Homo sapiens: one gene and its partners. The protein of the gene in region 2 interacts with the protein of the main gene of each other region in a biochemical or structural test. Each region holds a gene or a part of one and is shown on either strand. Other genes may lie near its edges. The genes, in order: GSPT2, PABPC1, PAN3 and TOB1.

Region 1 (7,551 bases), on a different chromosome or scaffold from region 2:
AAACAACATTGAACAAGGTCATAACAACATTGAACAATGTCATAACAACATTGAACAATGTCATAACAACATTGAACAATGTCATACATTGTGCATTGTTGTACGATGTACACCTGCTGTACATTGTTTTGCTTAATGTTGTAGTCTTCAAGAACCTATGGATAATGTTACATGAACTACTGCTATACAAATAAAGACGGCCTGAGCCTTTCATTTTCAAATCACAAGTGGGGAAGCAGAAGAGCTCCTTTATTGACTGGACTTGGACAGAGAAAACAAAGCCCACTGGGAAGAGCCTTAACATACGTTTTTTTCTCAAAATTAAAATTATTCCTTTAATACACACTTATGCATTGTTTGTAAATTCCTCACTTAAAACAGTAAGTGGTGAAGAGTTTTTAAGTTTTTAAGTGATAGAACATATTCAACTATTTGAGAAAGTAATAAAGCTAATTGAATAGCATTACATAATGACATTTAAACATTATTCAAAAGCATTTCAAATAACCGAAGAGTTTCAAATGGAGTATTTTATTCACATGTTAGTTATCATTTTAACACACACACAAACACTGACACACTCTGGTTTGCGTGGAACAAGGGTGGTCTAAATATCCTAAAAGAAAATGAAAAATTAAAGTACATTAATTTTTCATTACTGTAGGCAATTACGTCCACATCACTTACAAAGCTATTACTGATATTGTCCAAGGAAGCAGAGTGGTACAGAGGAAGGAAACTTGAGGGTAAATTCATCAGTGACATAACAGATCTCAACATGAGAAAGCTGACAAAACATGAATTTTTGCTGTGAAATTTCTCTTTGCAAAATATGAAGAAAAGTCAATCAATGGGCAGTAAATAAGAGTAGGTGGTGAACTTTTGCTGTCAATTCTCCTCACAGTATCTTGCAGAGGCATCAAGAAAATTGCTTAGTCCTTCTCTGGGACCAATTTCAGAACTTTTCCAATTGCAATGGTCTTACCCTCATCTCTTAAAGTAAAACGACCCATCTGAGGAAAATCTTTGAACGTCTCGAGGCAGATGGTTCCTGCTGTCCTTAAACGAGCAATGCATACTTGATCTTGTTTCACGAAGCGGGGTCGTGTCTTACTTTTTTCTCCTGATTTTTTGTCTACCAAGGAGATTAACGCTGTTATCTCAACTTCCTCAATACAAGTATGAATGTGCAGCACCGCATTATAACCTGGGCAGATGATGGATTTGTGCTCAATAATCACTATCTGAACATCAAACGTGCGTCCAGAATGGCAGAGGTTACTAGGATCACAAAGTATGAATCCTGGAAGAATCTCTTCTTCTTCAATTCCCTTCAGTCTGATTTTGAGGTTTTCACCTGGGGCTACAAAATCAGTTTCAGTATCATCAGAAAGTATTCCAAGAACTTCTACATTGTGCTTGTTTGGCATCATCACGAGCTGCTGGCCTTTAAAAATGGACCCGGATTCCAGCTTTCCCAGGACCACAGTGCCCATATCTTTGTACTTATCCACAATTGGCAGTCTTATTGGTCCATCAATTGATCTGTTGAAGTTTGGCAAGTTATCCAAATACGGAATAAATGGTAATCCAGTGTACCAAGGGCAGAAATCTGACTGCTCTTTAATATTTGCTCCGGTCAGTCCTGAGCAGGGCATAAAGTGAATGTCCTTTTTTGGACTGAAGCCTACTTTTTTCAAAAAGGGCACCAGTTTTTCTTTACATTCTTCATATCTCTCGATGCTCCAATTTACTGTGGGATCATCCATCTTATTAATAAGCACTATTAAATGTTTTACCCCTGCCGTTTTTGCCAACATCGCATGTTCTCTTGTCTGTCCACCTTTTTCAAATCCAGTTTCAAACTCTCCTTTCCTGGCAGAGATGACCAGCACAGCCAAATCAGCTTGAGAAGCACCACCAATCATATTTGGGACAAAACTCTTGTGGCCAGGGGCATCTAAAATTGTGAAATGTTTCCTTTCTGTTTCAAAATAGGCACGACCCACTTCGACTGTTTTACCCTTGTCTCGTTCCTCCTGATTTGTATCTAAGGCCCAGGACAAATACCAGGTTTCTCTGTTTTTTTCCTTAGCTTCTCTTTCATATTTCTCCAGTGTTCTTTTGTCAACCATTCCAGTCAAAAACATTATCTGTCCTCCGATGGTTGACTTGCCAGCGTCTACATGGCCAATGAATACTACATTTACGTGTTCTTTCTTAGGTGCACCTGAGGGTACGATCACAGATTTGGATTTTCTTATTTCCTCTTTTTCCTCCATCATTTCCTGGCCACTTTCTTCTGGGGGCCCTGAATCTCCCGAGGAACCACCCCCAGGCTCGGCTTCACTTACTTCTTTACTGTGCTCCCATGATTCTTCTAGGGCCATTTCCACCTCTCCATTTTCTACAACAGGTTCTGAAAGTTCCATGGTAACGGCTGAATTGGAACCTTCAAGCGACACTAACGGTTCCTCTCGGGAAGGTTCCACAGGTGCCCCCCGTCCCATCCTTTTACCTTGAGGGTATCCCGCGCCGGTGCAGGTTTCATCGTTGCTGCCGGAGCCGGCCGGGAGGGTGGGCGGCTGAGTCGGGCCCCGCAGGAAGGACGGCACGAACTCCGCGGCGTGTACGTTAGGCACGAAGGGCTTGGCGTTGACGTTGAGCTTACGGCTGAAAGCCGAGCTGAGGGGCTCGCGCTGGGCCTCGGCCACCGCAGAGGAGACTCCATCCCCGCTCGGGGCCGACCCCGGGGATTCCATGTCCACCTGGTCCCAGCAATCGGGCGCCGAGTCGCTGCTGCTGCTGCCCGAATCCATGGTCTCGGAACTTGCTGTGTGGCAGTGAGGGAGCGGGCTCAACAGGCCAGAAGAGCGGGCTCCGCCGGCGGGGTTAAGGCAGCAAGAGCGAAGGGCCAAGGGGTAGCGACACGAACCTTAGCTGCACCGCGGAGGCAGCTAAGCGCCGATGCTGCATTCGCAACTGCGGCGGCAGCAGCAGATATGGCGGCTCAACACTCTCCTCTTGTGTGTGAGCGGATCTCCTCCCCCAAACCCCAACCACTTCCGACTCCTCCACCCCCGACCCAACGCCGGGCGTGGATTGACCCCTCGCTGCTATCCGTACGCTTGGCTTCCTTACTTCTTCTTAGCCACGGGCTAAGTCCAAAAGTATTATTTTTTAAAACGAAAATTTCCATTCACTTTTTTGTTCACACAGTCTGGCAGAGCAATTTGACCACAATCTGATGATTAAACCTAGACAGGAACACATGGTATACAATTCTACCAAAAGATTCAAGTAAAAGTGATCATTTCTATTGAACAAATGGGAGGCAAGATAAGGGTTAACTATACAGAAATTCAGAAACCCAGCAACTGAAGGGAGAGGCAAGGAATGGGTAGGGAGGGACTCATGAAATATATGAGTCTGTAGCCGAACTTAGGAAATGCAACTTAAGATCACTCATTAATTTGAAATCCACAGGCCTTTTGATTTTCCCTTTCCAGTGGGCCCCCATAAGCCTGTAACTTCTGCTGATGGCTTCTATAGTTTAAGGATAGGGTTACAACTTCTTTTCATGTTAAGCACCCTGGCTGTCTGAGGGGAGAGAATTTCCAAGGAGATCCTTGTTCCAGTGAAGCTTCCAGTCACTTCATATGCAGATGCCTGCACAATGGCTGGCCTGCCATTCAATGGTGGATCACGTAGACAAGCACAGGACTCAGATCACTCTTGTTTTACCAACCAACTGAATTCTGGGTTTATCTGCACTACTCCCCAGCACCTCCCTAGTACATCCTGCATCCACAGGCCTCGGGTTTTCCTGCTTCATTCCGGGGGGCCTGGAATCCTACTCACTGCACTGGCTTTGCTCTAAGAAACAATCAGTGTCATGTTGAACCCCTCTACAGTTTATGGTAATGAGACAGGGCTGTAGGTGTCAGCCTAATTAAACCAATTAAGACTTCTGAGATGAACAAAGACCTTAAGACCCTAATCAAAAGAATCTCACTCTCAGAAAGTGTTAACAGTTGAGTCAAAGCCTCAGCGACCTTGTTTGTAAATTAATTTAGTGCAAACTGACATAGAAAATACAAACTTATTCTCTGAATCTGTTTTTAGTCTTCATGTACTCAAATCTGTCACCTTTTGCTTTTATGAATTCAGGTTTTGTGACATACCTAGAAAGACTATTCAGTCCAAACAATCTGCTTAGTACAAGATGGTGTCACATAGATGGATTTATTTTTTTATTTTGAGACAAAGTTTCACTTTTGTTGCCCAGGCTGGAGTGCAGTGGCATGATCTCAGCTCACTGCAACTTCTGCCTCCTGGGTTCAAGCAATTCTCCTGCCTCAGCTTCCTGAGTAGCTGGGATTACAGGCGTCCGCCACCAAGCTCAGCTAATTTTTCTTAATATATATTTTTAGTAGAGACAGGGTTTCACCATGTTGGCCAGACTGGTCTTGAACTCCTGACCTCAGGTGATCCACCTGCCTCGGCCTCCCAAAGTGCTGGGATTACAGGCATGAGCCACCACGCCTGGCCTCATAGTTGGATATTTAAATCCAACAACAAAGCAAAATATTATAAAACCAAGTACCTGATTATAACTTGAGAATTGTGTTCTCCAGACTTTAGGGGTAGGAAAAAAGACAGACTTGGACCCTTGATGTTTTCACTCTGGGGCTGCCACTATTATACTAGCTCTGTACTGTTTCCACACCTTCATTCTTTTTGCCTCCGGTTATGGATTAATTATTTACAGTGACATAAAGAGAATGTGCACACCTATTCACAATAAACAGGAAGAACTGAGAGGTAGAATGTGCAGAGAGACCCTCCACACAAGTGCTGGAGCCTTCTTGGACATTGTGTGAACCTAGAATGGACATTTCTGGGAGAACCTGTCAAGGTTTTGGCAGCCGTGTTCACATAAGGTAATTCATGCAAGGAAGCAGGAGACATCTGGGATTTTTCCTTCACCTGGGTCGAATGCATTGGTCATGAACATATTGGTATGACTGCTACTTAGTGATATCTCAGAGAACAGAGGATACTTCACTGTTAGAACGATAAAGGAGAAGTCAGAAATAGTCTGTGAATGTCCTCATAATCCATCATTCATGAGGTTCCAGGGGAGGCAGTTCAACGCAAGAGAGAGAAGCACTGACCAGATTGTGTCCAGAGAGATTGGCCTTGGACAAAAATCTTTTGGTTTGTGTGATGGGATGCTTGTCTCCAGTCTTTCTGCCTAAGAGTTCATCAGTAAATGAGAGAATTTTCCTCACCAAAGAGGAAAATTTAAAAAAGAGTGTAGGTGATATCCAACCATTGCTTAATTCAATCTTTTTCCTCCTTTAAAAATCTTTTTTATTGTAAAATATAGCACAAACACAGAAAGTCACATTAAAAATTATAGGTTATTGACTTATGAGAAAGGAAACACACTTGTAACAACCATCCAAGTCAAGAGAAATTTGCCAGCCAGCCCAGAAGGCTTCCTTGTGCCCTGTTCAATCACAAATGACTTCCTCCACCTCTCAATGTAACTGCTATTGTGACATTTATGGTAATAACCTATACGATTTTCCGTATAGTTTTATTACACAAATGTGTACACTCAGACACTACAGTTCAATTTGGCCTGCTTTTTTGATATTTCTTTTAAGTCTTTTTTATCTCTGGATACCCAACCTATCTTCCCCTTTTTCATGTCATTTATTTATTGAGGAAAGTGGATGATGTGACTGGTAGAGAGGTTTTTTTGTTTGTTTTTTTGTTTTTTTACATTCTCAGCTTTGCTGACTGTATGTCTATGGTAGAGTTTAGAATATTCCTTTGTTCTCTGTATTTCCTGTTTATCAATAATTAAATCTATGAGCTTGATCAGATTCAGGTGCAATTTTTTAACAAGAATACTTCAAGGGAATTTTGATTATTTCCATCAAGAGGCACATGAGGTCGGGTTGTGACTCTTTTTACAGTTAGCCACAATTATTGATACTTGTTTAGAGACATATCATTAGAGGTTGCAAAATTGTGATATTGCACTTCTGTCATTCTTTCTGTTTTTATTAACTGGAGTGCTGTTCCAAAAAATTTACCTTCAACAGTTTTGTTACTTTCAGATATAGATTGCAAAGGAAATGCAGGAAAAGTGCTTGATTCTTTCGTGTTATTTAGGAGCTTTAAAAAATAATGAGTTGGTTCCCTAGAATCCTACACACATGACAAATAAGGATTTTAAAAGGGATAATTGTGAATTATTGGATTTACATATATTTGAGGCATTTTGATAAATTTTGCTTACTATACTTATTGATGATCATTTGCCAGTGCCTCTTCTGGTTGAGTTCTGAACACTTTTGAGACTATGCTAGTAGTCCTTGATGGTTTATTTATTATATGGTTTGACAAGATGTACCAGACCAATTATACAAATGTTTGCCAAACCAGGAATACTGGTTCTCAATGATAACATGGAAAGATAGATAGAATTAGAAAATAAAATAATTACTCATTTGATTTATCCCACCTACACATATAGTTGTCTCAGTACCACCACCATCAATATGATTTAAAATAAACAGATTTTTTCTTTGCATAAATGCTCTCTCTATTCTCTGCCTGTATTTCATAGTTGAATTGTATCTATCTGATAGTCAATTTTATTGAGTGCTTCCTAAGCGTAGATCATATTTCAATTATTTTATATGGATTCTCTCATTTAATTTTCCCTATCATCCTTTGAAGAAGGTAATCTTATCACTGTTTTACAGATAAGAAAATAACATTCAGAGAGGCCAGGGATTACTCAACGTCACATAGCTAGTAAATAGCGGACTTGGAGTTCAAACACAGACAATATGATTCTAAGACCACACTGGCTTGTATCATCTATTATATATATATATAAAGAAAGGAATAGGGAGATTTGGCAGAGTTAAATCACAAATAGAGGAAGAAGGTTAAATCTTAGATTATCTGGAAAGAATGGAAATATAATAAATTTAAGAGAGAAAGGATAATTCACTGTAGTTCTTTCATGAGGATTTGTGTTTCTTTCCTGAAGTAGGAGACTGGAAATTGTGAAGGAAGACTAAAATAAGAAAAATGATGAATAGGGGAAGATTTATAATAGGCCCTTATGGTATGGGGGAGGTGGCTGATTTGGGAGTAATAAAATTATTTTTTAAAGAATTTAGGTAAACCAAAACAGCACTAGACTGGAGGACATAATATGTTTAGGTTTTGAGATTCCTCTCTTTCCCCATCTTACATCTAGCATCACTGAGCAACTTGGGGCACAAGCAGAGTCTTAAGTTTCATCCAGGTTTAGGTAACAGTGGTGTATGGTAGGCTGAAAGGAGGAGAACAGAAAAATATTGAGGAGCTAGTGAACATAGAGTTAAGAACACTGTGCCTTATATTGGTTCTCTTGGCGTATGTTCCAGCCCCATTCACAAATAAGCTTCTCTGTGCTGAGATGGCTAGAAAGCTTAAGCCTCCATTTCCTAGAGTTTTGCTGCTGGGATTCCAAATGTG
Region 2 (2,721 bases):
GTTAAAAACTTTTTTTTATTGAAGGGAGTTTTTGAATGTTTCTGTTCCTAGGTGAACGGCTGTTTCCTCTTATTCAAGCCATGCACCCTACTCTTGCTGGTAAAATCACTGGCATGTTGTTGGAGATTGATAATTCAGAACTTCTTCATATGCTCGAGTCTCCAGAGTCACTCCGTTCTAAGGTGATTTAAATTTATTTACCAAGTTGCCTCTTACACAGTTATTACGTGGCTTTTTATGGGGACTTAATTGTACAGAACACTTACATCGTGTTATATATAAGCCATGTACAGTTGTAAAGTCTGCATAATAACCTGTGGCGCTATTTATCCCCATTTTATAGATAGGTAAACTGAAACAGGCTGAATAATTTGCCAAATGCTCACACAGCTCTTAAGTGGCAGAGCCTGGCTTCAAATCCCATCAGCTCCAACAGCCATACTCTCAACTGCTGCTGCTTTCTCTAGTGGAGAAAGAGAAATATTTTTCGAGTGTGGGGAGGACAAGGAAAGAGTAGTGCAGGGGAGCGATTCATAATTCTAGAATAGTGGTGTAATAGAACTCAAAATTGAATGGATATAGTTGTTTAGTGTAACAATTTATACTTTCATTTGAGGGAAGAAACTTATCTTTGTTGGGAATTGGTATGTTACCATTATGAAACTCTTTATTTCCATTCCTTTCCTGAACCAGTTTATCTGTTTTCCCCTTTTTTAGGTTGATGAAGCTGTAGCTGTACTACAAGCCCACCAAGCTAAAGAGGCTGCCCAGAAAGCAGTTAACAGTGCCACCGGTGTTCCAACTGTTTAAAGTGAGCTTTTCCCTCTGGTTTGTTGTTTTAAGCTTGTTTTCTTCATCTTTTATAAAGTTTGTTGAGCATATTTTGAAATGTACATAGCAAAAGATCATTTTACAGTTCATTTAAATGTATTGCTAATTTTTCAAGGAAAAGTGGAACTAACTATAGAGGAATTAAAGGAATTTTACCCGTTAACTGTTGGATTTTTAAAATCCCAGGACTTTCAGGTGGTGTTTTTTTTTTTTTTTTTTTTTGAGATGGAGTTTCGTTCTGTCGCCCAACCTGGAGTGCATTGACGCGATCTCGGCTCACTGCAACCTCCACCTCCCAGGTTCAAGCAATTCTCCTGCCTCGGCCTCCCGAGCAGCTGGGATTAACAGGCCCATGCCTGCCACCGTGCCCAGCTAATTTTTGTATTTTTACTAGACTTGGGGTTTTGCCATGTTGGCCAGGCTGGTCTGGAACTTCTGACCTCAAGTGATCCGCCCACCTCGGCCTCCCAAAGTCTTGAAATTACAGGCGTGAGCCACTGCGCCCTGCCAGATTTTGTATAGTAATATATATATAAAATGACCTGTCACAGGTTGGCTTTCATAGTTTTACCTTTCCTTTTTGGGTGGTGCCCTTGGGTCTCTACTACTGTCTTTCATCACTCCCAAGAAATTGAGTAGTGCAGCCAGGATCAGGACCAGGGATTGGCAAATGTTTTTTGTAAAGGGCCAGATAGGAAATATTTTGGGCTTTGAGGACTGTGTTATCTCTGAAATGATCTTGTTCCAGTGTTACCATGTCAAGACAACCATAGATAGTATGTATACAAATGAACAGGTATGGCTGTGTTCCAGTAAAACTATGGATAAAAACAACCACATTGCATTTGGCTAAGGGCTTTAATTTGCTACTGACAAGTGATAGTCCTGGTCTTAATTTGTTTTTTTAACATTTACAGATTGATCAGGGACCATGAAAAGAAACTTGTGCTTCACCGAAGAAAAATATCTAAACATCGAAAAACTTAAATATTATGGAAAAAAAACATTGCAAAATATAAAATAAATAAAAAAAGGAAAGGAAACTTTGAACCTTATGTACCGAGCAAATGCCAGGTCTAGCAAACATAATGCTAGTCCTAGATTACTTATTGATTTAAAAACAAAAAAACACAAAAAAATAGTAAAATATAAAAACAAATTAATGTTTTATAGACCCTGGGAAAAAGAATTTTCAGCAAAGTACAAAAATTTAAAGCATTCCTTTCTTTAATTTTGTAATTCTTTACTGTGGAATAGCTCAGAATGTCAGTTCTGTTTTAAGTAACAGAATTGATAACTGAGCAAGGAAACGTAATTTGGATTATAAAATTCTTGCTTTAATAAAAATTCCTTAAACAGTGCACGGATTTGCTTTTTTTCAAAGTCTTTATAATTGCCATGCATAAATAGGTAATATCTTAATGGTGCTGAGCCGACATAAGAATCTTTTATGAAAAATGTACTGTTAAGTTCAGGGGGTCTATTGGTTTTATGTAAAAGGCACAAGACAATTCCTGTAGTGCATTTTATGAGTTAAGGTTTCCATACGGATTATTGAAACAATTTGTTACATGTATTTGTTACATGATCTTAATATTTCATGTACAAGACTGACACCCATCCACTTTTGAAGATAAGCCAGTTTATGGGGTTTTTTTTTTTGCGGGTAGAGGTTGGGTCTCCCTATTTTGTCCAGGCTGGTCTCGAATTCCTGGGCTCAAGCATAAGCATAAGGCTTATTCCTGCATAAGCCACCATGCCTGGCCTGCCAGTTGATGATTATATTGAGGTTTCTAGGCTATGAGATTATTAGCTTAAACCCTTACATGATATAAAACAATGATAGCTACTCTTGAAGAGGATGTAGATAAGATAGGCTTTGGTATGATT
Region 3 (7,482 bases), on a different chromosome or scaffold from region 2:
GGCTGGAGTGCAGTAGCACGATCTTGGCTCACTGCAACCTCTGCCTCCCAGGTTCAAGTGATTCTCGTGCCTCAGCCTCCCGAGTAGCTGGGATTATAGGCACTTGCACCAGGCACTTGCACCACCACGTCTGGCTAACTTTTGTATTTTTAGTAGAGATGGGGTTTCACCATGTTGGCCTGGCTGTTCTGGAACCCTGGCCTCAAGTGATTCGCCTACCTTGGACTCCCAAAATGCTGGGATTACAGGCGTGGGTCACTGCGCCTGGCCAAAAAATCTGTCATGTATCAGTTATTTATCACTGCCACAAATAGGAAGGTTTTTGCTTCTAGTGCACCCAAAATTTGTCAACAAGATTAAATTAAGCAGTTGCTAGTAACTTTGTATAAAATTATAGAGCTTAGTGCATAAGGAACATACTTTACAAATATGTAAGAAATGTATTTATACATATGCAGCAAATTTCATTTCTAGGACTCAAAAACAGTCAACTCTCATTTATCCACATGCAGTTTCCACTCTATCTTAAGGGATAATTTTTATTTTTTTTTGAGACAGGGTCACCTTTTTTTCACCAGGTGACACCAGGGTTGCTGTCACCTAGGCTGTCACTGCAGCCTCGACCTCCTGGCCCAAGCAATCCTCCCACCTAAGCCTCCCAAGTAGCTGTGACCACAGAATGCCACCATGCCCAGCTAAATTTTTTTGTAGAGACAGTGTTTCCCTATGTTGCCTAGGCTGGTCTCAGAACTTCTGAGCCAAGTGATTCTCCTGCCTTGACCTCCTAAAGTGTTAGGATTATAAGTGTGAGCCACATGCTTGTCCTTAAGGGAGAATTTTTAAGACTCAGGCTGCTATCACTAATATAATAATTAACCATTCAGAAAATGTGACGTTTTCCTCTCAATCTTTATTATTATTAATTTTGAGATGAAGTCTCGCTCTGTTGCCCAGGCTGGAATGCAATGGCGCAATCTCGGCTCACTGTAACCTCCGCCTCCCAGGTTCAAGCAATTCTCCTGCCTCAGCCTCCCGAGAAGCTGGGATTACAGGTGCCTGCCACCATGCCTAGCTAATTTTCTGTATTTTTGGTAGAGACGGGGTTTCACCACGTTGGTCAGGCTGGTCTCAAACTCCTTACCTCAAGTGATCCACCCACTTCCGCCTCCCAAAGTGCTAGGATTACAGGTGTGAGCCAATGCGCTTGGCCTCAATTATTAGCATTTAATAGAAATTAACATTACCCTTTAGCAATGTAGTCTCTGTTGCTGGGGAAATGCTGTTGGAGGTCAAGTATACATTTTATGAATAATTTATGGATTATTTGCAGTTTTGGATGTAATCTTCATTAACATGAAAATAACTTAGAGTTGACTACATATTTATTTTTAGTAAAGGAATACTCAACAATGAACCCTGCTTAAAAAGACAACCCTACTATAGGAATAAGTAGTTGTCTCCTAAAAAAGTGTGGAGATATGAAATGTGTGGCAAATAAGTTTATTTTTTATTTATTGACCGAGAGGGTCTCACTGCTGTGCAGGTTGGCATAAAATGGCGCCTTCAAAGCTCACTGCATCCTGGAACTCCTGAGCCCAAATGATCCTCTGCCTCAGCCTCCCCAGTAGCTAGGACTATAGGCAAGTGCCTCTACACCTGGCTAATTTTTAAATTGTTTTGTATAGACAGGGTCTTGCTAGTTTTCCCAAGAGGGTCTTGAACTCCCGGCCTCAAGTGATCCTCTTGCCTTGGCTTCCTTCCAAAGCAGTGAGGTTAGAGGTGTGAGCCACTGTGCCCTGCCATGTTGACTTTTAAAAACCCTGTAATAACTTCCAATTGTCCTCAAGAAAAAGTTCAATTCTTTTTTTTTTTTTTGAGATGGAGCCTTGCTCTGTCGCCCAGGCTAGAGTGCAGTGGTGCGATCTCACTGCAACCTCTGCCTCCCGGGTTCAAGCAATTCTTCTGTCTCAGCCTCCCGAGTAGGTGAGATTACAGGTGCCTGCTACCACACCCAGCTAATTTTTGTATTTTTAGCAGAGACGGGGGTTTCACCATGTTGGCCAGGCTGGTCTTGAACTCCTGACCTCGTGATCTGCTCGCCTCAGCCTCCCAAAGTGCTGGGATTACAGGCGTGAGCCACTGCGCCTGGCCAAAAGTTCAATTCTTTAACATGGCCCTACAAGGACTTTTGTGGACTCTGCTCCATTTTCCACTATCACTGTATTCTAACAATAAAAGCTGTTTGCCTAGAATGCTCTTTGACTATACACTGACTACCACTAGCAGCAATACTACTTTTTTTTCGAGATGGAGTCTCGCTCTGTCGCCCAGGCTGGCGTGCAATGACGAGATCTCGGCTCACTGCAACCTCTGCTTCCCAGGTTCAAGTGATTCTTATGTCTCAGCCTCCCCAGTAGCTGGGATCACAGGCGCTCGCCACCACGCCCAGTAATTTTTTTGTATTTTTGTAGAGACGGTGTTTTACCAGGTTGGCCAGACTGGTCTCGAACTCCTGATCTCAGGTGATCCACCCGCCTTGGCCTCCCAAAGTGCTGGGATTACAGGCGTGAGCCACTGCGCCTGGCCAATACTATTAATAATAGTTACAACCTACCGAATTCTTATTAGGCATGGGACAGTTTATATACATTATTAGTTATACTTTATGAAGTAGGTACTATTCTTAATCCAGGTGTACAGACAAGGCACAGAGAAATGAAGCAATTAACTGAGAGGAACACAGCTATTAAAGTGTAGGCACTTTAATCTGTTTCAATCCAGATCTGTCTGAATTCAATGATGTTCCCAAACTTGGAACATGAAAATATCAACTTTCTCCAAGAAGTCTGACATGTTTAATATCCTCTAATAGCAAATGTGATAAGGTTAGCACTTAAGACACTGGTTTACAACGGACCTGTGTACTTGATGCCTCCCCAACCGGAAGATAAGCCATCTGAACTCACTTAAGGCGGCATGTTCACTTTTGCTTCCCCAGCTCCACAGTTAAGTGTACCACAGTTTCTGGTACACGTAATGCGTGTTAATAAAGATTTGTTGAATAATCAAATAAGCGAAACTGCTTTTAAACAGAAAGCCATAATACAATGTTATTACCTTCGAATTTGGCTAGAGAACATCACCAAGCTTACCAGTTTGTGATCTAGACTCCACTTTTCCCCATTTTTTTCAGTGTGCTACTTTTGCTTATATCCATTCTTCTGTGACTTTGTTTGCCACAATTCCTTAAATACTTCCACCCCTCCTTTTCATAACAGCGATCTGCCGTTTGTGAACCTCTTTTACAGAGAAAAACTAGAATGTTACTTTTCCTTTCATAGCAATTCTTTAAAATTTCTGAAAGCCTTTAAAAGGGTATTAGCGCAAACATCAGAGATCGCTGAGGTTAAAACTATCTTTTAAAAATGAATTTCACCGTCTCAAAAAAAATAAAAATGAATTTCAAATCAAGGCTAGGCTGATTGGAGAAAAGCAACCTAGTATATTTATAAAGGTCTTCCAGTGCTGTCTAAGCAGTGTTGTCCCAGGTGGCATCCTATTTTTCATAATTTACCGAAGGCCCTTGGTAATATAAATACAGAGAATAACAGGTGCTGCACTGAGCAGGGGGTCTGTCTAAATCAACCTTTTTGGCTCCATTTTTTGACAAAGGGCCAAGAGGTTAGCGTAATCGGTCCAGTAGTTCTCATTACCTTCGAGGGGAAGGGGAAAGAGGAGAGGGGCGAAGAAAGGAAACGGGGAGAGGAAGTGTGGCAAATAGAAGATATTCTTCAGGTAGAGCCAGGGCTCGGGCCGCGTCCCCAGGTGGCCCCTCCAAACGACCGTTTACCTTGTCAATTTTCTCTTTTCAATGAAAAAAAAAAAAAAGACATCTGGCTTTTTAAGTAAGAGAATATACAAATAAGGAAGGTATCAGGTCTCGTGAGAATTCGGCGCCAGATCCGCGTCCGGAACCCCACCGAGAGCCGCCGGTCCAACCGCCGATAGCTCGCGGATGCCCCCGGGGGCCCGACGCCGGCCAGGCTTCCCCTAGCGCTCCCGCTACCCATAAGCCCTCGCGTCTCAGCGCGCACGCGCAGCGGCGACGGCCGTCTCAGGAAGAGGAAAATGGAATAAACAACTCGGAGGAACCAGAGCGCGAGAGAGCGAGTGGAGGCAGAATTTAAAAATAAACCGGCCCCTCCGCCTTCCCCACCCGCTTGCCGCTGCCGCTCCCTCTTCCCCTGCCCGCGCCCTCGAAGTCCCCGTCTGGGCCCGCGCGCTCACCCCGTCGTCCCGCGCGGCCCCTTTAAGAAAAGAGAACGAGAGAGTGAGTGAGAGAATCCCAACTCTCCCCCTACCCTCCCTCCTTCTACCCCCTCCTCCCTCCCCTCTCCCCTCCCCCTTCTCCCCGGGCGGCTCCGGCTCCCGCAGCGGGACAGACCCACCCGCCCAGGCTTTTATCCGGCACCGGCAGCGTCTTCCTTTCCTCCCCCGTCTATGGTGGTGGCGGCGGCGGCTCCTCGGGCGGCGGCGGAAGACGAGGCTGCGGCGTTGCCATGAACAGTGGCGGCGGCCTCCCGCCCCCCTCGGCCGCCGCCTCCCCTTCCTCCTCCTCGCTGGCGGCGGCGGTGGCGGTGGTGGCCCCGCCGGGGGTCGGGGGTGTCCCCGGCGGGGCGGCGGTAGGAGTGAAGCTGAAGTACTGCCGCTACTACGCTAAGGATAAGACTTGCTTCTACGGGGAGGAGTGTCAGTTCCTGCATGAGGACCCTGCCGCCGGGGCTGCCCCGGGCCTCGGCCTCCATAGCAACAGCGTCCCCCTGGCTCTGGCTGGTGCACCCGTGGCCGGCTTTCCGCCGGGAGCCGTCGCGGGCGGGGGAGCTGGGCCGCCCCCCGGGCCCAAGAAGCCGGACCTGGGGGACCCGGGGACCGGAGCCGCAGCCGGCGGAGGAGGCAGTAGCGGGGGACTCGATGGACCGCGGCTGGCAAGTGAGTGTTTTTCGGGCGGGGCGGGCCGCGGCGGCGGAGGGCAGGCCTGGGCCGGATGAGGCCCTGCTGCCGACGGGAGCTGAGCACGGCCCGCGGGCTCCCCCCCTCACCTCCCAAGGCGGTCTGAGAGGCCTAGGCCGGGCCTGAGCCCTCCTTCCTTCTTCCTGCTTCCCCTCCCCACTGCCTTCGGCAAGTCGGAGAGCGCGGGGAGGTTGGGTTCCCGGGAACGTGGGTGGGAGGACTGGGGTGATGTGAAGGGGGGGCGGGGAGGAAGGGGGATGGGCTGTGGCGTGCGGAGTGTGAGAAAGGGGGTGTCGTTTCCGGGGGGTGTGGAAAGGGGCTGGGTTTGCAGGCACATGTGTTTTGCGTGTCCTTGTGGAGTGGCGTCTGCAGAGTGTTGAGGTTCCCTAGTGGGGAGGGGTGTGTTTGTGTGTGTGTGTGTGTGTGTGTGTGTGTGTGTGTGTAGGGGGCGGGAGGTGAGGGGCGGGCTTAAGGCTTCGTGGAGTAGGTTGAAAGAACGGAAAAAGTTTGTAGAAGGCTTGCGGGAGAAAGGTTTTGCAGGCAGGAAATGCTTTCTAAGGATTAGGAGGGAGCGGACTGTCGCGTTCAAAGTGTGCTCAGGTTTAATCGAGAGTTTAGAGTAGGGATTTCACAAAGACGCATTTCATCTGAGTTTCCCTGAAAGCTAGAATAAGTTTGCTGGTGTCAGCTGGGATCCTGTCTTCTATAGCTTTGTATCAAGCAAACTCAGCATTGTGTCTTGAATGCATGTCATGTGCAGCCTGCGTTTATGTGCGACTGAGCACTTGGGTGGGGACATCTTAAGGCTGTTTATATTTCTTTTTCATGTGTTGTTGTTGTTGTTGTTGTTGTTGTTTTGGAGAGAGTCTCGCCCTGTCGCTCAGGCTGGAGTGCAGTTGCGCGATCTCAGCTCACTGCAACCTCCGCCTCCCGAGTTCAAGCGATTCTGTTGCCTCTGCCTACGGAGTAGCTGGGACTACAGGCGCGCGCCACCACGGCCAGATAATTTTTTGTAGTTTTAGTTGAGATAGTAGTCTCGTTGTGTTGGCCAGGCTGGTCTCAAACTGCTGGCCTCAAGTGATCTGTCCTCCTCAGCCTCTCAGTGTGTTGTTATCTATTGACCTGAAGCTTGTTAGTTGTTAGTGGAGTTTACAATTGAATGTGAGCGTAATCTGTTAGAGAATGTTGCCTTTACGAATAGAGCCGGTGCCAGATGTCCCTGTTTTGTTTCTTAGTATATTGAGCGTTTCTAAACCAAATAGGAGTCCTACTTTCTTGGGAATTCTGGAGAACTAGATCTTAAAATAATCTGATAGGCAGTTCAATTTGTACATGAGAACATTTTGTCTTTTTCTTAAACACTGTTAATGAACCTGATAGGAAGTTTTAGCATTTAATTGGTCTATGAGGATTATTTAATATCTTCCCCGGGGTTTTGCTTTCTTGCTTTTTCTTTCGAGACGGGATCTTCCTATGTTGCCCAAGCTGGCCTGGAACTCCTGGGCTCAAGCGATCTTCCTGCCTGGGCCTCCCAAAGTGCTGGGATTACAGGAGTGAGGCACCATGCTGGGCCAAGTGTTGTTCTGTTCTGTTCTTTTCTCCTTTCTCTCTTCTTTCTTTTTCTTTTATAGAAGTGTTTCATTTGTTGTGATGGGCTTGACTTTAATGAAGATATATTTGCTAAGGCTGATAATGCTAAGAAAATTAATTTTGTAAATTCAGATGTTTTGTAAAACAAATGGTTACTTATGGGTGGAATTTTATCACTTTCGAGCATCAACTTTGCATTTTCAGGTTAAAGTTTTGCTGGATGTGTGAGTCGTGACTCAGTAGTAATGTTTGATTAGTAACCAATGACACTGAACAATAGTTTTCTTACTGACAGAAAGAGACACTTTTTTTTTTTTTTTTTTTGAGACGGAGGCTTGCTTGTCGTCCAGGCTGAAGTGCAGTGGTGCGATCTCGGCTCACAGCAACCTCCACCTCCCAGGTTCAAGCAATTCTCCTGCCTCAGCCTCCCAAGTAGCTGGGTTTTACAGGCATGCGCCACCACGACCGGCTTATTTTTGTATTTTTAGTAGAGACGGGGTTTCGCCATGTTGGCCAGGTGGGTCTCGAACTCCTGACCTCAGGTGATCGTCCCGCCTCGGCCTCCCAAAGTGCTGGGATTACAGGTGTGAGCCACTGTGCTGGCCAGAAAGAGGCACTTTTTAAAATGCTGGTGTTAGACTTCATAGGTGATCTTTCTAGGATTCTCTTTTTAAAAAAAACTTTTAAAGTTTTATTTATCTATTAATCTTATTCCTGACAGACAGCTCTGACGATCATTCTAGGATTTTCTTTTTCTTTTTTTCTTTTTTTTTTTTTTTTTTTTTTGAGACGGAGTTTCACTCTTGTTTACGAGGCTGGAGTGCAATCTAGTGATCTCGGCTCACCGCAACCTCTGCCTCCCGGGTTCAAGAGATTCTCCTG
Region 4 (7,076 bases), on a different chromosome or scaffold from region 2:
TGTAGTCCCAGCTACTTGGGAGGCTGAGGCAGGAGAATCACTTGAACCCGGAAGGCAGAGGTTGCAGTGAGCCAAGACTGTGCCACTGCACTCCAGCCTGGCGACAGAGTGAGACTCTGTCTCAAAAAAAAAAAAAAAAAAAAAAAAGAAGTAAAATGAGTATTAATAATTATACACCATGTGATAGCTATTCTCCTGTAACCCTTTCTCAATTTACAAGGAAGCATATTAAGAATTAGAAAACTTAGGATGTCTCTATCTCAGAAATCAAGGTGTTGCATGTGTGTGTTCTTGTGTGGATTAGGTAATAATTCAAGGCACTTTCAAGAACTGTATTTTATGAAGATATTGGAAGTTATTTTTTACCAAACGATTACCTTTATTGTAAGGGCCCACTGGGAATTGTGTAGAATGTAGGGATGTGAAAGGCAAAGGCTGTAGTTTCTAGTGACTGTTATTTGCTCAGAGAGAGGAATACCTCTTGATTGTGATACACTTGGAGCCTAATATCAAATTCTTTTTTCCTCCATAAGTCTAATTCCCTGCACAATTAGCAGTTAGCCCTCCACTCCCCTGCACAATTCCAAAGTAAATGTTAGATAATAATAAGCCATATGCAGAACTTGGATAAAGAACATTTTATACCTCGTGACTGGCAATGTTCAGAGATGTGAATCAGTTTTCCCTTTTATTTGCAATCCATATATATGTATTTTTTTTCTTTTTTGAAACGAAGTTTTGCTCCTGTTGCCTAGGCTGGAGTGCAATGGCGCGATCCCAGCTCACCGCAACCTCCGCCTCCCGGGTTCAAGTGATTCTCCTGCCTCAGCCTCCCGAGTAGCTGGGATTACAGGCATGCGCCACCATGCCAGGCTAATTTTGTATTTTTAGTAGAGACAGGGTTTCTCCATGTTGGTCAAGCTGATCTCGAGCTCCCGACCTCAGATGATCCACCCACCTTGGCCTCCCAAAGTACTGGGATTACAGGCGAGAGCCACCGCGCCCTGACTTGCAATCTGTATTTGAAGAACAGCTGCAGTATATATGTTAGGAACATTGAGTTTTAAGGGCGGAATATTTTATTTATTTATTTTTTTGAGAGAGAGTCTCGCTCTGTCGGCCAGCAGGAGTGCAGTGGCACGATCGCGGCGCACTGCAACCTCCATCTCCCAGGCTCAAGCAATTCTCCTGCCTCAGCCTCCCAAGTAGCTGGGATTACAGGCGTGTGCCACTACACCCGGCTAATTTTTGTATTTTCAGTAGAGACGGGGTTTCACCGTGTTGGCCAGGCTGGTCTCAAATTCCTGAGCTCAGGTAATCTGCCTGCCTCAGCCTCCCAAAGTGCTGGGATTACAGGCGTAAGCCACTGCTCCCAGCCAAGTGTGGAATTTTTTTTTAATTGAAGGAGACATTAGATATGATCTAATTCAACCCTTTTTATAGGTGAGAAAACTAAAAGTTTATTGAAACTGGTGTGAAACTCAGACCTCCCAGTACCCACCCTTCATTGCTTTTTCCAGTATGCCATGGGGCCTCCGTGTGTGTTGTTTGTGTGGTGTGTGTGTGTGTGTTTATATTTGGTCAGACATCTTCTTACACTCCTAGGCCAAGCAGCAATAACTCATAAATTTTTGACATCTACATTTCTGACTTAAAAATGCTTTTAATGCTACTGATATTTAATCAGTACCTATCAGATGACTGCTCTCATATTTCAAATCTGGAATTACAGATTGAAGACATTCAGAAAAGAGAACTTGTCCCTTCTCTTTAGAGAATTATTGAAAAGTACAGATAAGTTTGACAAAATTACAATTCATCTATCTTTAGACATTTTAGTCTCAGCCATGCCTAATATGCCCCCCCAATATAAAATTACTAATCAAGACACATGGTCCCGCAGTTCTAGATGTTTGGTACAGTACCATTATTTGCCTAATGGTAAAAGAAGTTGTGCTTCTAGAACACGTGAAAAATGAAGTGTTTCTTTTGGTAAGGCATTCCAAGGATATCCTGTCTAGTTTCTTGAAATTTCTGTGCTTAATTAGAAAACTAAAAATAACTCACTTTTATTACAGATGGACTTGTCATTACAGAAAACCAAAAACAAACAAATAAAAAAAGAAAACTGAACAAATCATTTATATTTGACGCTTTGATGACATTTCAATGCAGAGGAAGGGACATTTTAATTTAAATGCTTTCACAGTTTTGCCATACTTTCACATTTCAATTCCACTCCTGTTTGCAACTAAAAAACCCAAACACTCAAAAAAAAAAAAAAATCACATTAATCAGAATTTAAGGAGTCACTTAGTAAAACTATGTTTTAGGAATCTGTACAATAAACATGAAATCAGTCACCTGACCACTCCCCACCCTCAGCCCATTCCACAAACCCATCTTCCCACCCCTTCTCCTACGCATTGAGCCTTCAGAAATACCCTTTCTCAGTGCGGTTCCTTCTAAAAAGGAGAGGCGGGAGAGTCAGGGTGGAGAAGGCGGCTCCAACCAGATTTTGCGTCCACAAAGCCAAAAGCTTCTAGGCCTGGCATGTACGGCGGGTTTGTGCCCGAGGAGCACAGCTGGTCTACACGGGCCCGCCCCGTAGACACCCTACTCCTCGGTGAGCTGCGGTTTAACTTCCTTATAGCAGGTTGAGAGTGCAGGCCCCAACGTTTGGAGGGGAAGGCGGCGCCCCAACTGGTGTTTTTCCAGGAAGTGCTCCAAGAATGGAGAGGAGAGGGGAAAGGGGAAAGGGGAAGGCCAGGCGATGGGCGTTTCATTCATTGCTTCTTTCTCCCCGTCCCCTCCTTCGCTCCCCCCAGACTTTCCCCTTTTCCCAGTCCGAGTTTGACGTCGGTCTCCTGGATACCAGGCAGCCAATCGCCTCGTTGCGAAGGGACCAGCGCAGCCAATCAGGCGTCGTTGCTACCTGTGAGTAATATTTTTAGCTGAGAGGGACGCTCGATTCCACTCCCGATGTAATTTCGTGTATTTCTCTGGGGCAGGTTGTGAAAAAGGCACTTACCCGCCCCCCACCACGAGTCCCTCTCTTACCCCACTCCCTAGGTACCCGCACATATTTCAGCCAAGAATGATCTTAAACGCGCTTTACAAGCAGGCACCGCGTTTATTCTGTGCACCTGCGATCCAGCAAGCCCTAGAAATGCACGCATGCGTGTGTGTGTAGACATGGACACAGATACATACGCAGTTTGGCCTCGTGTCGCCACACTCTGGGCACGGCGTGGGCTGGGACATTTGGAATAAACGGATCCGAGTCGCAGCCGGGGTCGCACCGGGAGGCCTGAGGCTGCGGAAGCAGTTAAACTGCCGGCGGGGCGGGAGCTGTGGCGGCCTCCCTTCCCCACCCCCAGCCCGGCTCCACGTCTTTGGGTTCTGCAGCTGCCACTCTCTGGGTGGCGGTTGGCCTAGGCCTTGGGGTGATTAATATTCAATTAATCGGGTGCACAAGTCCCGGTCACAGTTTGCCCTTTCTCTACCCCGCCCCTGGGGTGGGCTGGAGGCCGATTTGGTAGCTATTCCACGAGCAGGATCCTCCTTGGCCGCAGACCCCCGCGGAGAGGGCACTTTCTGGGTACTCTTGCCGCTCCTCCAGCCCCGGTTCTCCTGAGCCGCTTCGCCACCAGCTTCGTCCCCCTCCCCCTCTGCCCGGCGCTCTCCGCCTAAACCGGGCGTCAGCCGCCCTACCCCACCCCTTTCTCTCTCATTGGCACGTCTGCCCCCACAGTCCCTTTCCAGACGTTCTCTTCATTCCGTCCCCAGTGCTCCGATCGTCGGTTCATTGGCCCTCCTGGAGCCCGGAGGGTGCGGCTTCCCCACCCCTGCGTCCGCCGCGCGTCCGGACAGGGGCAGGCGGGACTTGGCCAATGGCGTCGGGGGGCAGGGCAGGGGCGGAGCCGGCCGGCGGGGGACCGGGGTGCCGGGCGGGGAGCGCGGGGAATGGCTGCGCCGCCGGAGCTGTGTGACGCGGAGCGGGCGCGCGCACCCCGACGGAGGGGATGGGGGCGGGGAGGAGGCCATAAAACGAGAGGCGGGGCGCGCGCCGCGGCAGAAGGAGCGAAGCTCTGGCCCGGCGTGTAGCGGGCGCACTACGGGGACGCTGGGCCGGGCACCGGGCTGTGTGGAGAAGTGAGCGCGCTCGTCTGACCCCCGTGCCCGCCACCCCGAGCCACTAACGGCGATCTCCCAAGGCCTGCCCGAGGCCTCTGTCCTCTGTCCTCAGCCCCGCAGCGGCAACGTCTTGCACTCGGCGAGCTCGCCGCTCCCGACCCTCCCGCGCCCCCGCCCTGCCGCGCTGCTCCCCGCCCAGCCGCGGGTCTGTGGTCCAAGCCGCCCCGAAGCAGCCCGTAAGTATCTCGGGGCGCCGGGCGGGGTCGGCGAGGAGACGGGAGCCCCGGGCCCAGGCGGCGGAGGAGGGGCTGCAGCGGCGTCGAGCCCTGGGCCCTCGGGAGCTCGGGGACGGCGGGGTCGCGGCCCTGGGCGCCGAGGGGGCAGCGCCAGGACCCGAGGGGAGCGGCTCCGAGGGGCCGCCGGCGCGTCGGGCTCGTCCTGGGCAGTTGGCCGGGGACGGGCGGCCCGGGGCGAGCTGACGGGAATTGGGGGGTTGGGGTGCCCGGAGGAGCGACGAGCTCGCGGTGGAACGCTGGGGTTCGAGGGGCCGGTGGCCGCGAGGCTGAAAATGGTGCCGAGGAACCGGTGCTCCCCCAGGCTCTGGCCGGCTCCCAGGAGCCCGGGGCGGGGGCCACGGGGCGGGGAGCAGCGGGTCGGGTTACGGCGGGGGAGGGGAGCGGCTGACCCGGCGCCCCGACCTGCTCGGTGCTGGGTGCCCAGCCGGGAGAGGTTGCTCTTCCATTTCCCGGGCCTTCCTCCTCCTTCTCCGAGGAGGCTCGTACTCTCTTCCTCCTCCACCTCCACCTCCTCTTGCTGTTGCTGCTGCTGTAGCGCTTGGGCTCCGAGGGCTGTGAGCAGAAATCTAATGAGATCTAACTGGCTGTTTATGTAATTCTTCACACTCCTGCCTGTCTTAAGGCGTTGCTTTGTAACTACCTTCCACCGAGCCTGAATTTCGCTCGGCTGCACCTTCAAGCAATTGGGCTTAATCAGCTGCCTCTGCCGGCACTCAGGCTTTTGACTTGGAAAGTGTTTGTAGTTTGGGGGCAGCCAGAGATTCTTTTTCCCTTTGTCACCACGAATATGGAAAATAGAACAGACGAATTAAGACCAACTTGATTTTTAAACGTACTTTTAAATCAACTTCAGTGTGCAAATAGATCCCTTTCGCAAATATCTTCTGTTTGCCCTTGATCTTTTCTTATCCCCACCCAGTGCTGATCCAGCAAACGTTTAAAGGTCGACCTTACCATACTTGCCTCTCCGGCTGTTACCGTGAGAGGGAGGGAGGGAGAGAGGGACAGACGGAGGTTTTTTAAAATCAGACTAAAACTCAGAAACCCTGGCCTTAAACAGAATAATCAATAGTTTTAATTTGTGTCTTTGCTTTTGTTATACTTGCTGCCGAATAGGTATTTTCAGATTTAGAAAAATACACATTGAAAACAAAAGGCCCAGAGAAGCTGGATTTTATTATATTGTATGCTCTTAGTATACTTAAGGCCGAAACTATATAGAATAATTTGGTTCATAATTATTTACTAGGATGAAGTTCATTTAGTACTCAGTGTCTTTAATTTTAGCATCATGTACTATGGAAATTAAAATGATCTTCCTAACGTAACCAAATTTTTAAATGTCAGTGACAGAGCAGATTTAAACAGTATATATCCAAAGTAAACTAAAACATGGATTCACTTCTAAGTTGGTGAATAACAATAAAAATTACTACCTAAAAGTGGCATCTATATATATGGGGGTGGGGGGAGGATGCTGAGTACAATAAATATTCTTGTGAGAACTGAGGAGAGAAGAATGCATGTTCTAGAGATTTTTCTTCTTAGAACTCTATTCAGAAACAGGTTTTTAAAAGCATTATTTCATTTGTAAATCTACATTTTCCTGTGTCATTTTAAACTTTAATAAACGATTTTCTATTTTATGTTTATTTTGTGCTAGTAACAGTTTTCAGGCTTTCTGTCCTAGTAGACATTTTCTTTTTCTTTTTATCCTTAGCAGACTAACACAGGATCTTAGACATTTTGAAAGGTGAAATTACTTTGGAGGGGGGAAGGTCATGGGACTTATATTACATTTATCTTATTTGGATATGTTTGCTTTTGTTTTAAGGAACAAGATCACTCAAGGTGAAGGATAATCTACTAATACCAGCACTTTGAATGAAAATTTGTTTCTCTGCCACAAACTGAACATCTTTTTTTTTTTTTTTTTTTTTTGGTGGGGGAGTTGAAACCTAATTTTGTGGCGTAGCAGCTATGCAGCTTGAAATCCAAGTAGCACTAAATTTTATTATTTCGTATTTGTACAATAAGCTTCCCAGGAGACGTGTCAACATTTTTGGTGAAGAACTTGAAAGACTTCTTAAGAAGAAATATGAAGGGCACTGGTATCCTGAAAAGCCATACAAAGGATCGGGGTTTAGATGTATACACATAGGGGAGAAAGTGGACCCAGTGATTGAACAAGCATCCAAAGAGAGTGGTTTGGACATTGATGATGTTCGTGGCAATCTGCCACAGGATCTTAGTGTTTGGATCGACCCATTTGAGGTTTCTTACCAAATTGGTGAAAAGGGACCAGTGAAGGTGCTTTACGTGGATGATAATAATGAAAATGGATGTGAGTTGGATAAGGAGATCAAAAACAGCTTTAACCCAGAGGCCCAGGTTTTTATGCCCATAAGTGACCCAGCCTCATCAGTGTCCAGCTCTCCATCGCCTCCTTTTGGTCACTCTGCTGCTGTAAGCCCTACCTTCATGCCCCGGTCCACTCAGCCTTTAACCTTTACCACTGCCACTTTTGCTGCCACCAAGTTCGGCTCTACCAAAATGAAGAATAGTGGCCGTAGCAACAAGGTTGCACGTACTTCTCCCATCAACCTCGGCTTGAATGTGAATGACCTCTTGAAGCAGAAAGCC

What was found.
Region 1: the proteins of PABPC1 (region 2) and GSPT2 form a complex in vitro, tested with the Homo sapiens proteins (4 studies listed by BioGRID and IntAct, with this or other methods).
Region 3: the proteins of PABPC1 (region 2) and PAN3 form a complex in vitro, tested with the Homo sapiens proteins (4 studies listed by BioGRID and IntAct, with this or other methods).
Region 4: the proteins of PABPC1 (region 2) and TOB1 form a complex in vitro, tested with the Homo sapiens proteins (2 studies listed by BioGRID and IntAct, with this or other methods).

Annotation. Positions count from the first base shown.
Region 1 is NC_000023.11:51,738,895-51,746,445, reverse strand, and holds GSPT2 (eukaryotic peptide chain release factor GTP-binding subunit ERF3B), read right to left. Parts: upstream 3,005-7,551; 5' UTR 2,820-3,004; coding exon 933-2,819; 3' UTR 214-932; downstream 1-213. UniProt on the Homo sapiens protein: GTPase component of the eRF1-eRF3-GTP ternary complex, a ternary complex that mediates translation termination in response to the termination codons UAA, UAG and UGA.
Region 2 is NC_000008.11:100,702,387-100,705,107, reverse strand, and holds the end of PABPC1 (polyadenylate-binding protein 1), read left to right. Parts: intron 1-51; coding exon 52-182; intron 183-717; coding exon 718-810; 3' UTR 811-811; exon of another isoform or gene 812-1,748; 3' UTR 1,749-2,192; downstream 2,193-2,721. UniProt on the Homo sapiens protein: Binds the poly(A) tail of mRNA, including that of its own transcript, and regulates processes of mRNA metabolism such as pre-mRNA splicing and mRNA stability.
Region 3 is NC_000013.11:28,134,099-28,141,580, forward strand, and holds the start of PAN3 (PAN2-PAN3 deadenylation complex subunit PAN3), read left to right. Parts: upstream 1-4,446; 5' UTR 4,447-4,559; coding exon 4,560-4,989; exon of another isoform or gene 4,990-5,076; intron 5,077-7,482. UniProt on the Homo sapiens protein: Regulatory subunit of the poly(A)-nuclease (PAN) deadenylation complex, one of two cytoplasmic mRNA deadenylases involved in general and miRNA-mediated mRNA turnover.
Region 4 is NC_000017.11:50,863,355-50,870,430, reverse strand, and holds the start of TOB1 (protein Tob1), read left to right. Parts: upstream 1-4,076; 5' UTR 4,077-4,373; intron 4,374-6,267; 5' UTR 6,268-6,413; coding exon 6,414-7,076. UniProt on the Homo sapiens protein: Anti-proliferative protein; the function is mediated by association with deadenylase subunits of the CCR4-NOT complex. Mediates CPEB3-accelerated mRNA deadenylation by binding to CPEB3 and recruiting CNOT7 which leads to target mRNA deadenylation and decay.